Regions from separate parts of the Homo sapiens genome. Here region 2 is reported to be linked to region 1. Evidence: microRNA targets listed by miRTarBase, many of them from high-throughput screens and not tested one by one. Region 1 holds a microRNA gene; the other region holds the end of a gene's coding sequence.

Evidence for each region. Region 1 holds the annotated microRNA hsa-miR-3678-3p (CUGCAGAGUUUGUACGGACCGG, at 2,849-2,870, shown strand). A microRNA usually pairs through its seed, bases 2 to 8, with sites in the 3' UTR of a target mRNA and lowers its output. Matches are read on the target gene's strand: a 7mer-m8 pairs with bases 2 to 8, a 7mer-A1 pairs with bases 2 to 7 and ends in A, and an 8mer does both.
Region 2: miRTarBase lists E2F1 as a target of hsa-miR-3678-3p. Seed matches in the 3' UTR shown: 7mer-m8 at 301-307.

Annotation. Positions count from the first base shown.
Region 1 is chr17:75,403,289-75,408,288 of GRCh38, forward strand. MIR3678 (microRNA 3678) reads left to right here and starts at 2,781; the gene lies at 2,781-2,874. It overlaps GRB2 (growth factor receptor bound protein 2), which reads right to left and starts at 2,390. Exons shown (of 6, transcript NM_002086.5): 1 at 2,201-2,390. RefSeq lists a silencer at 2,448-2,627.
Region 2 is chr20:33,671,915-33,676,988 of GRCh38, reverse strand. E2F1 (E2F transcription factor 1) reads left to right here. Exons shown (of 7, transcript NM_005225.3): 7 at 10-1,512. The coding sequence ends at 257. NECAB3 (N-terminal EF-hand calcium binding protein 3) reads left to right here and starts at 2,561. Exons shown (of 12, transcript NM_031232.4): 1 at 2,561-2,765; 2 at 4,567-4,591. The coding sequence starts at 2,637. RefSeq lists enhancers at 1,534-2,034, 2,705-3,252, 3,253-3,800, 4,349-4,898 and a silencer at 2,221-2,850.

The DNA.
Region 1 (5,000 bases):
TCATTTCTCCAAAATCCATTCCTCTTCTGTTGTATGTGTAACAATTAGAACTCTGATGGACAACATGCAACATGATAACAGCAATTACTGAGAAGAATCTCTAAGTACCATCAACCAGTAGTATTTAAAACCCAGCAAGCCTCTCAAATCTGAATAACTTGCTGACGAAGTAAAGTGCCTCAAACATTTAAACGTTTGAGTTCAGGCCGGGCGCAGTGGCTCATGTCTGTAATCCCAAGGCTGAGATGGGCAGATCACTTGAGGTCAGGAATTCGAGACCAGCCTGGCCAACATGGTGAAACTCTGTCTTTACAAAAATACAAAAATTAGCCAGGTGTGGTGGTGAGCACCTGTAATCCCAGCTACTCGGGAGTGCGAGGCAGGAGAATCGCTTAAACCCAGGAGGTGGAAGCTGCAGTGAGCCGAGATCGCACCACTGCACTCCAGCCTGGGCGACAGAGCGAGACTCCGTCTCAAAAAAATAAAATAAATAAATAAATGCTTGTGTTTAGTAGAAGAAAGCTGATTATAAGAATTAACTCTGGCCGGGCGCGGTGGCTCACGCCTGTAATCCCAACACTTTGGGAGGCCAAGGCGGGTGGATTACCTGAGGTCAAGAGTTCAAGACCAACCTGGGCAACACAGTGAAACCCCATCTCTACTAAAAATACAAAATTCGCTGGACATGGTGGTGGGCGCCTGTGATCCCAGCTACTCGGGAGGCTGAGGCAGGAGAATCGCTTGAACCCAGGAGGCAGAGTTGCAGTGAGCCCATATAGCACCATTGCACTCCAGCCTGGGCAAAAAGAGCAAAACTCTGCCTAAAAAAAAAAAGTCACTGAGCTGACCCAATCTTCCTATTATAAAGACATACTAGAAGAAAACATAAGCAGGCACAGAAGCATAATCTTAAAAGAAAAAGAGTAAAAGACAAAAATAATACAAGCAAACCACACTTGCGACCTAGTGGCAGGACTGATTTCTTAGGGATGAATTCAATCTTTTGAGCCTCCCCGTTCTCAGAGAGGGGACTTCAGCCTCCCACGGCTCTCTAGCAACCCTTCTGGCTGACTGCAGGGAACGCAGGGGACGCGCAAAAGTAAAGGAACGAAAGCAAGGAAAGAGAGTCTCTTCCCGAGGAAAAAGACGGAATCTTGAAATGAGAGAAAACGAACAGCACGAAAGGGAAGAAACCTCGAAAAATTACGCCAGAGTGGGGACTACAAGGAGGAAGGGGAAGTACATTAGAAAAAAAGGGGGGGGTGGGGGGAGGAAGGGGCAAATGACTTGCATTACACAAGCATTTCGTGTCCCTAGTGGAAAGGACAGAAGCAGATAGAGAAGGAAGGAAATAACTGGAGAAAGAGGAGTAAGAAAGCCAAAATAGACTAATGCTAATTTCTCTCATGTGTCTGACATTTCGGAAAGTCAACAGCATCAAAAAGAGACAGACCTCAAGTGCACTTCAGTCCCCTGCAAACTGCACTTTCACAGCGTTTGAAGCCAGCCTTGAAAAACTTTCTAAACAAGCCATAACTCATGTGTGGCTTACAATCATAGAGAGGGCGCGCTGCAAATGAAAATTACCAGCGCCCGCTCTCGCCGCAATCCTTCCTCGGTGCAGTCCAACCTGCTACTGCTGAATTTTTCTTGACAAATATTTTTCAAATAGTTTTTTTTTTTAAGTGTCAGAATAAAGGTATCTCCCCCGGCTCCAGCAGCAAACGTTCCACCCCAAAGTGGATTCCCGCACAAAATTAAGCCCAAAGACGCCAGGAGATGGTGACGTGGTTGCCGTGCAGGTCGAAGGCACATCAATCACCACAGCTGCAGCCCACACCAGTCCCCCGCCGCCAGGCTCGGGTAGACTGACTCGGTCGGCGTTCGGCCCGCCTGGGCTTCCCGGGCCCCTTCCGTGCAAACCCTCCCGATGAAGGCAGGGGACCTCGCCAGAGAACCCCGACCTCTTCCCCCGGACTGCCCAGAGCCAAGAGCCGGAGGAGGACGGTCCCCAGGAAGGAAGCGCCCCAAAAGGGGAAACGTAGAGTCCGGAGCCCCGGGGATTGCGCTCCACGTCCCAAGCCTCGCCGCCCCGACGCGAACCCCGGGGCCGGTCCCGGTTCCCCCGGGGCCCACTCCCGCTGTAGAGCCAAGAGGAAAAGGCACGAGAGAGGCGCCGAGCGCAGCCTCCCGTACTCACCGTGGCGCAGCTGCTCCGCTCAGCGTCCGGCCCGCCCCTCCACAACGCTGCGAGCGGCCGGCGACCCCAAGGCTGCTCTGCGAGGGCAGCGCTTGCTCCCGCCGCCGTCACCGCCACAGGCACAGACTCTGCCACAGCCGCCGCCGCCGCTGCCGCCGCCCGGTCGCCGAAGCAGCAATACCTCCTGGCTTCCGCTCCCCGTCGGTGTCCCGCGAGAACTTCTCCACGAGGCCCCGCCCCGCCCCCGCGAGACTTCCCCCGGCGGAAAAGGCCCAGAGCGCAAGCGCTCCTCCTCAGCCGGGCCCCTGCGGGTAGGGAACCAGCTAGGTGTCAGGGCGCATGCGCCAGACCTCCCCGCAGCAGGTGGCCTCCGCACGGCTCCGCCCCCGGGTCGCCGTAACCCTCTCGGTGCCAGAGCGGGTAAATGACAGCTTAGCCCTGAAGGACTCTTCCCCCGTCTAATCACTTTATTTTCCTCTTCTACCAAACCTAGGCAGTTGGATGGGTAGGGGCTTGGGGGAGGAAGAGATCTTCCAGAATGAAGCACTCCAAATAGAGGACCAGGTCTTAAAATATTTGAGAATCCGGTCCGTACAAACTCTGCTGTGTTGAATGATTGGTGAGTTTGTTTGCTCATTGATTGAATCACTGCAGAGTTTGTACGGACCGGATTCTCCAATATAGGCCGAACACTGTGCTGGGGATAGAACAGAAATCTTGGCCCTTAAGGAATTCACGGTCTAGGAAGTAGAAGAAAAATAAACAAATAATGCCATAAGTACTGTTATAATTATTTGGAGTTTGCTGAGGAAGCTAAAAAAATGGAGGGGGTACTGCTACACTGCCCATTGCAGAAGAGCCTTCACAGATGTGATGCGGCGATGTCTGATCTGAGTCTTGGAGGATGAGTAGGAATTTGCCAGGCAGAGAAGCCAGAGTAAGGGCATTTCAGGGAAAGGGAATGGCACGTAAGTACAGAGGCTAAGTACAGAGGAACGGAGGCGTGAGAGAGAAAGTCGTGTTCTGTGCAGTGCTAAGTAGTTCAATTCCTGTATGAGGCCGGTGAGTACGGGGGAGTGGCAGAAGATGAGGCTTGGAGAAATAATTCTTATTTTTCAGTTCCCAAAGCTCTTCCAATTAAAGGATAGAACACAACACACCTAGCGTTACTGTGCCTTCTGGAAGCCAACAAAATAGCGCTGAGGTGAGAATAACCAAGCATCTGATTCTATAGAGAAAAGAAGCCCATTGAAACACAGAAAATGAATTGTGCTTTCACCAAGTATTTATTGAGCATCACCTGTGTGCAAGGGGCTCTGCAGGGTCAAAGACCAACCAGATGAAGCCCCTGCTTTCAGTGCTTTGTAATCTAGAGTTGCCTAATCTGTAAGACAAGCAGTTGGCCCCAAGTGCCACTGAACTACACATAGGGATGGCTGAGGAGGGAGCCAGTACTTGGTGCTGAGCTAATCAAGAAGGATTTGGTTTGAACGGCAAAGTGAAAGCAGGGAGGAAAGAGGAAAGAGTAATGGAATCAGCCTTTTGTTTTTTTTTTTTTTTTTTTTTTTTGAGACGGAGTTTTGCTCTTGTTGCCCAGGCTGGAGTGCAATGGTGCGCGATCTTGGCTCACCGCAAGCTCCGCCTCCCGGGTTCAAGGGATTCTCCTGCCTCAGCCTCCCGAGTAGCTGGGATTACAGGCATGTGCCACCACACCCAGCTAATTTTGTATTTCTAGTAGAGATGGGGTTTCTCCATGTTGGTCAGGCTGGTCTCAAACTCCTGACCTCAGGTGATCCGCCCACCTTGGCCTCCCAAAGTGCTGGGATTACAGGCGTGAGCCACCATGCCTGTTTTTTTGGTTTTTTTTTTTTTTTTGAGACTTGCACTGTTGCCCAGGCTGGAGTGGAGTGCAGTGGCATGATTTTGGCTCACTGCAACTTCCGCCTCCTGGGTTCAAGCATTCTCTCACCTCAGCCTCTCAAGTAGCTGAGATTACAGCAGCCTGCCACCACACCCAGCTAATTTTTGTATTTTTAATAGAGACAGGGTTTCGCCATGTTGGCCAGGCTGGTCTCGAACTCCTGACCTCAGGTGATCCACCTGCCTCAGCCTCTCAAAGTGCTGGGATTACAGATGTGAGCCAACACTCCTGGCCATCAACCAATGTTTTTGATTAGTCCAAGCCCCAGTAATTGGGGGGAAGAGTGATGAGAGAGAGGGGCCAAAATGCAAAATGCATGGCTTAGGTGTCATAGTCAAGTGATGGGCAACCTCTGAAGGTTTCTGAGCAGGAGGTGTCTGATATGAGGTGAAAATAAGAAAAGGACCCTCTATTTACCACTTGATGCATACTTAAGTCATAGCGCCTCCACAGGGTGGGTAATATCCCCATTTTACAGACTTGGAAACTAAGCCTTAGAGAGGTTAGTAATTTACCCAAGGAAGCCAAAATATAGTAGACCTAAGATTTGGACTAAGGCCTGTCTTGTTCTAAAATCCTCATTTTTTTCCCGCACTATGCCACTTTGTTCTAAAATAGCAGTCAGAAAAAAATAGAAATGGAAGGGAGGGACTTAGCTGCTAAGCAGAGAGGAAGACATGAGGGAAGAATTGCAGTTTTTTGTTTTGAGTGGGCCTGGATAACAGGGAGAACACAGAAATTTGCCAGTCAAGAGGCATAGCTGACTGGAGGGGGCAGGCACAGAGAACAGGGAAGGGCAGGTGAGGAGATGATTGTAAGGGTGAAGGGAATTTTTCCCTTCCACTCTGACAGTTTGAGTCTGCTGAAATAAACTGGCAA
Region 2 (5,074 bases), not on the chromosome of region 1:
TCTCCCCAGAACCGCTGTTGTCCCGGATGGGCAGCCTGCGGGCTCCCGTGGACGAGGACCGCCTGTCCCCGCTGGTGGCGGCCGACTCGCTCCTGGAGCATGTGCGGGAGGACTTCTCCGGCCTCCTCCCTGAGGAGTTCATCAGCCTTTCCCCACCCCACGAGGCCCTCGACTACCACTTCGGCCTCGAGGAGGGCGAGGGCATCAGAGACCTCTTCGACTGTGACTTTGGGGACCTCACCCCCCTGGATTTCTGACAGGGCTTGGAGGGACCAGGGTTTCCAGAGATGCTCACCTTGTCTCTGCAGCCCTGGAGCCCCCTGTCCCTGGCCGTCCTCCCAGCCTGTTTGGAAACATTTAATTTATACCCCTCTCCTCTGTCTCCAGAAGCTTCTAGCTCTGGGGTCTGGCTACCGCTAGGAGGCTGAGCAAGCCAGGAAGGGAAGGAGTCTGTGTGGTGTGTATGTGCATGCAGCCTACACCCACACGTGTGTACCGGGGGTGAATGTGTGTGAGCATGTGTGTGTGCATGTACCGGGGAATGAAGGTGAACATACACCTCTGTGTGTGCACTGCAGACACGCCCCAGTGTGTCCACATGTGTGTGCATGAGTCCATGTGTGCGCGTGGGGGGGCTCTAACTGCACTTTCGGCCCTTTTGCTCTGGGGGTCCCACAAGGCCCAGGGCAGTGCCTGCTCCCAGAATCTGGTGCTCTGACCAGGCCAGGTGGGGAGGCTTTGGCTGGCTGGGCGTGTAGGACGGTGAGAGCACTTCTGTCTTAAAGGTTTTTTCTGATTGAAGCTTTAATGGAGCGTTATTTATTTATCGAGGCCTCTTTGGTGAGCCTGGGGAATCAGCAAAGGGGAGGAGGGGTGTGGGGTTGATACCCCAACTCCCTCTACCCTTGAGCAAGGGCAGGGGTCCCTGAGCTGTTCTTCTGCCCCATACTGAAGGAACTGAGGCCTGGGTGATTTATTTATTGGGAAAGTGAGGGAGGGAGACAGACTGACTGACAGCCATGGGTGGTCAGATGGTGGGGTGGGCCCTCTCCAGGGGGCCAGTTCAGGGCCCCAGCTGCCCCCCAGGATGGATATGAGATGGGAGAGGTGAGTGGGGGACCTTCACTGATGTGGGCAGGAGGGGTGGTGAAGGCCTCCCCCAGCCCAGACCCTGTGGTCCCTCCTGCAGTGTCTGAAGCGCCTGCCTCCCCACTGCTCTGCCCCACCCTCCAATCTGCACTTTGATTTGCTTCCTAACAGCTCTGTTCCCTCCTGCTTTGGTTTTAATAAATATTTTGATGACGTTTGGGCCGGGTTTTGGGACTCTGTTGGGAACATTTCGGGGCGGGAGAGGCCAAGGTTGCTGGGGAAATGCCCATTCTCCACTTCCCTTCTCCCTGTCCGTGCCCGATTTGATTTGAGCCTCATAACTCGAAGAAAGGTCAGCTTCCTCGCTGTTTTGGTCCTAACTCAAAAGCAGATCCAGTAAAGGTTTTTGTTGTAGAAAGCCAAGAATGCTATTCAGTGCTGCCCGAAGTGCAGAGTAATGAGTGGCCTCTCCTTTCCCCAGCCCCAGAGGCCACTCTGCTCAGTTTGCTGTCTTCCTTCCAGACGTTTCTGGACATTAGTAAACATGTAACAAATACAGTGGGCTGGTTCTGTGTCAGGTATTTAACAGTTCTGGGGACACGGGTGTTACCTCCTTTCATGGTGCTCTCAGGGTCTGAAAGAGGAGATCTGCATAAATGAGAAAATCGGGAAAGGCGTTCTGGAATGGGTGGTGCTTAAGCTGAGCGCTGTAAAATAAGTAGGAGTTAACCAGAGGAAGAAAACACCAAGCAGAGGACACGATGGGCAAAGGCCTTGGGCAGGAGGGAGCGGGATAGAGGACCGGAGAGAAAGCAGTGTGGCTGCGGTCCTGAGGTGAGGGTCAGAGTGGTGCTCCTGGAGTGGGGCGTTCAGTCTTAAGCTTTATTCAGGGGCCAAGGAGTCACTGGAGACCGAAGTGACACCTCCTCTTTCGCATCTTAAAAGCTCCCCCCGGCTGCTGTGTGGAGAACGGGTTGAAGGGAGGGCCAGAGTCACGGAGGGGAGGGGAAAGGGCTGCGCTTAGTGCCAGAGAGGGCGGGCGTCGGGATGCCTGGGATTCGGCCGCACGGACCTGTGGGCTTCCTCTGCGCCAGCCCCCGTTGTAAGCACTTGACATTGAATGAGTCCCAACAATTGCATAGGGTGTCTGCCAGTACCATTTTTGTAGATGAGGATACAGACGCCCCAAAAGGTGAAGTCCTGGTGGGTTTTACCCACTTGTGTCACCCTGACCTCGGCACTGGCTTGGTCATCCTGTCCCTCTGGGTAGGCCCGCAGCCCCTAGGTTCTGCTCCCGACAGGCCGTCGCGGGACCGGAGCCCTCGGGCGCCTCCCCCTCCGCCGTGGCCGCGGAAGCGCGGAGGCCCGCGGCGCTGGAGTTGGACCTTGAGGCGAGGGAACCCGGCGTCCGCGGGGGCGGGGCGGGGGCGGGGCCTGAGCCCGCGCGTCGGCGCCGGCGCCAAGGGGCGGCCTCTAGCCACACCGAGTCCGCCGCGGCGTCCAGGGTCGGCAGCAACCGCAGCCGAGCCCGAGCGGGTGGCGGCGCCATGGCGTGCGCGGGGCTGCTCACCGTGTGCCTGCTCCGGCCGCCCGCGCCCCAGCCCCAGCCCCAGACCCCGCGGCACCCCCAGCTCGCGCCCGACCCGGGGCCCGCCGGACACACGCTCTTCCAGGACGTGAGTGGGCGCGGGCTCTGCTCGCGGTGTCTCCCTACCCGAGTCTCTGTTAGTCTCACCCTCCGGGGTTGTTCGGGCCCCGCCGCTGTTTCTGGGTCTCTTCCCCTCTCTCTGGCCCTGCTGTTTTCTCTTGACCTTTCTGCCCTTGTGTGACCTGTTCTGTCTCTCCATGTCTCCTCTTGTCCCTGCTCCAGTGTCACTGCCCCTGCTGCCTCCCACCCCTCAGCCCACCCCATTTGTGTGTCTGGTGTTGGCGGGGGGCTGGCGACAATCACAGCAGCGGTCACCCCACTCTGTGGCAGCTCCAGGCTGGGCTGACTGGGGAAGGGGAGCCTGGAAACGCAAGGGCCCCTCACTCCTGACTCTAGTGCCGCCCCCAGAGTTCTTCAGGCCCCACTCCAGGGCAGCAGAGTCCTACAGTTGGTAAGGGCTGCTCAGAGTCACCCTCCCATGGGGCCATGGGTGGCCCTGCGGCCACCATGGGCACCAGCCACGGCCCTGAGCCCTTTCTCCACCGTTCACCGCTGTGCTCGGCTCTGTCCTGGCCCCCTCATGCCCCAACTCCAGAGGGAGGCAAAGCTGTCTCCCACCCCCTCCCCACTGCCCCTAGTGACTCAGCACCTTGACCACAGCCCTGGCTGGAAGGGACCTGACCCTCCTTCTTCCCAAGTAGGAAAACCAAGGCCTGAGGGGATATGTCTCAGGTCAGTCATGGAGGCAGGGATACAATAGGGTGACCCCAGATGTCCCCATTCCCAGCTTAGCACCCCTGCCCACTCCCAAGATCTCCATCTACCCTACCTGGGCCTCCCTGGCTTGCTGCGTGCCCCTCAGCCAGTGGCAGACCTTCTCTGAGTTAGGCTAGAGGTTAGAGTCTTTCCTGAGCCCCACTGACCCTGACAAAACAGGACCCTGGAGGGGGCTGGCGTTCAGGACCTGGAGTTCATGGGGGCTCTCGGCCCAGGCTTGGCCCACCCCTGCTTGCCAGGCCTGCCAGTCTCCCCTTTGCTGGGCTGCTTTGGGTGACCTGGGAGCAGGTCACTAAGAGAGACGGGGACCTGTCTTGACTCTGCTCCTCTCTGCCTCTGTTGCTCTTCATCTCCACTTCTCCATAAATGAAATCTGCCGAACTTGCCTTCTGCCACCCCCACTCCCCCTTGGACGTGTGTGTGTACACACACGCCTGCCGAAGGTCCTCAGAGTCAGCCCCATAGGAAGCCCCAGCCCTGAAAGAGTTAACCCCAGCTGCTCCTGATCTATTTGCTAGTGGGTAACTCAGGCGCCTGCAGAGACAGAGTAGCCACTGCCTGCTGTTGGTTTTCAACAGCACGCAAGGAAACAGCTCAGAGAGGGCAGCTGGGGTAGACCATGGCCACACAGCAGAGCTCGGGGCTCAGGTCTAGGACGGCTGTGCAAGATTCCTGGGCCACAACCTGGCCCATCTCCTCAACCTTCCTCAAGCTGGAACTGTGCCAGGGGCTGATGTATCAGATAGAACTTGGGCTGCACTCTGGGTGTGGGAGGTGGGGACGCAGGGGACTGGCCAGGAGCACCCCCCACGAGGCCAGGCCCTGCAGGAGAAGTGAGCAGAGGTGGCACCCGCTGCGTGCTCTTCCTGTGCCCCGCTTGCAGGAAAAGCTCCTGCAGGGCTGAGCTGGGCAGGTGGTTTGGGACCAGGCTGGGCGGGAGGAAAGGCGAGGCAGGGGGTAGGTCGGCCAGCTGGGACCCTGTCGGGTTGAGTGGGGGCCTCTGGCTTCCCAGGTGGCACTCACAGTTCTCTCTATGTCCCTTTGTCCTCTAGGTTTTCCGCAGAGCAGACAAGAATGGTGAGTGTGGCTTCCCCTGGGTCCCACAGTGGGGCAGGGTGGGAGGCATCCAGGAGGCCCAGGGAGAGTTGGGAGGTTGGGTGGGAAGTCAAGAGTTGAGACAAATCTTGGGGGCCCAAAACAGGAGAATCAATCAAGGCACTTCCCAGAGGAAGTGCTGTTCTCAGCCAAGTTTGGCAGGATGGAGAGTGGAGAGAATGTGGTTTGGCCACGGACTGGAGATAGGGGCTGACTTTCACACAGCACCCTGGCATGGTGATGGGCACTTCCTGTACGTGGCCCTCTGTTGTCCTCACAACCACCAGCTAGATTGGAATTCACCCTATTTCATAAAGGAGCAGAGGGCCAGAGAGGTGAAGCAAGTTGCCTAAGGTCACACAGCCTTTAATTGATAGGCTCGAACTTGGGTCTTTGCAGCATTTAATCCCAGGCTCCTTGTGTGAGGCACTTGGAAGAGTGAGGTAATGGAGATGAGGCCTTTTT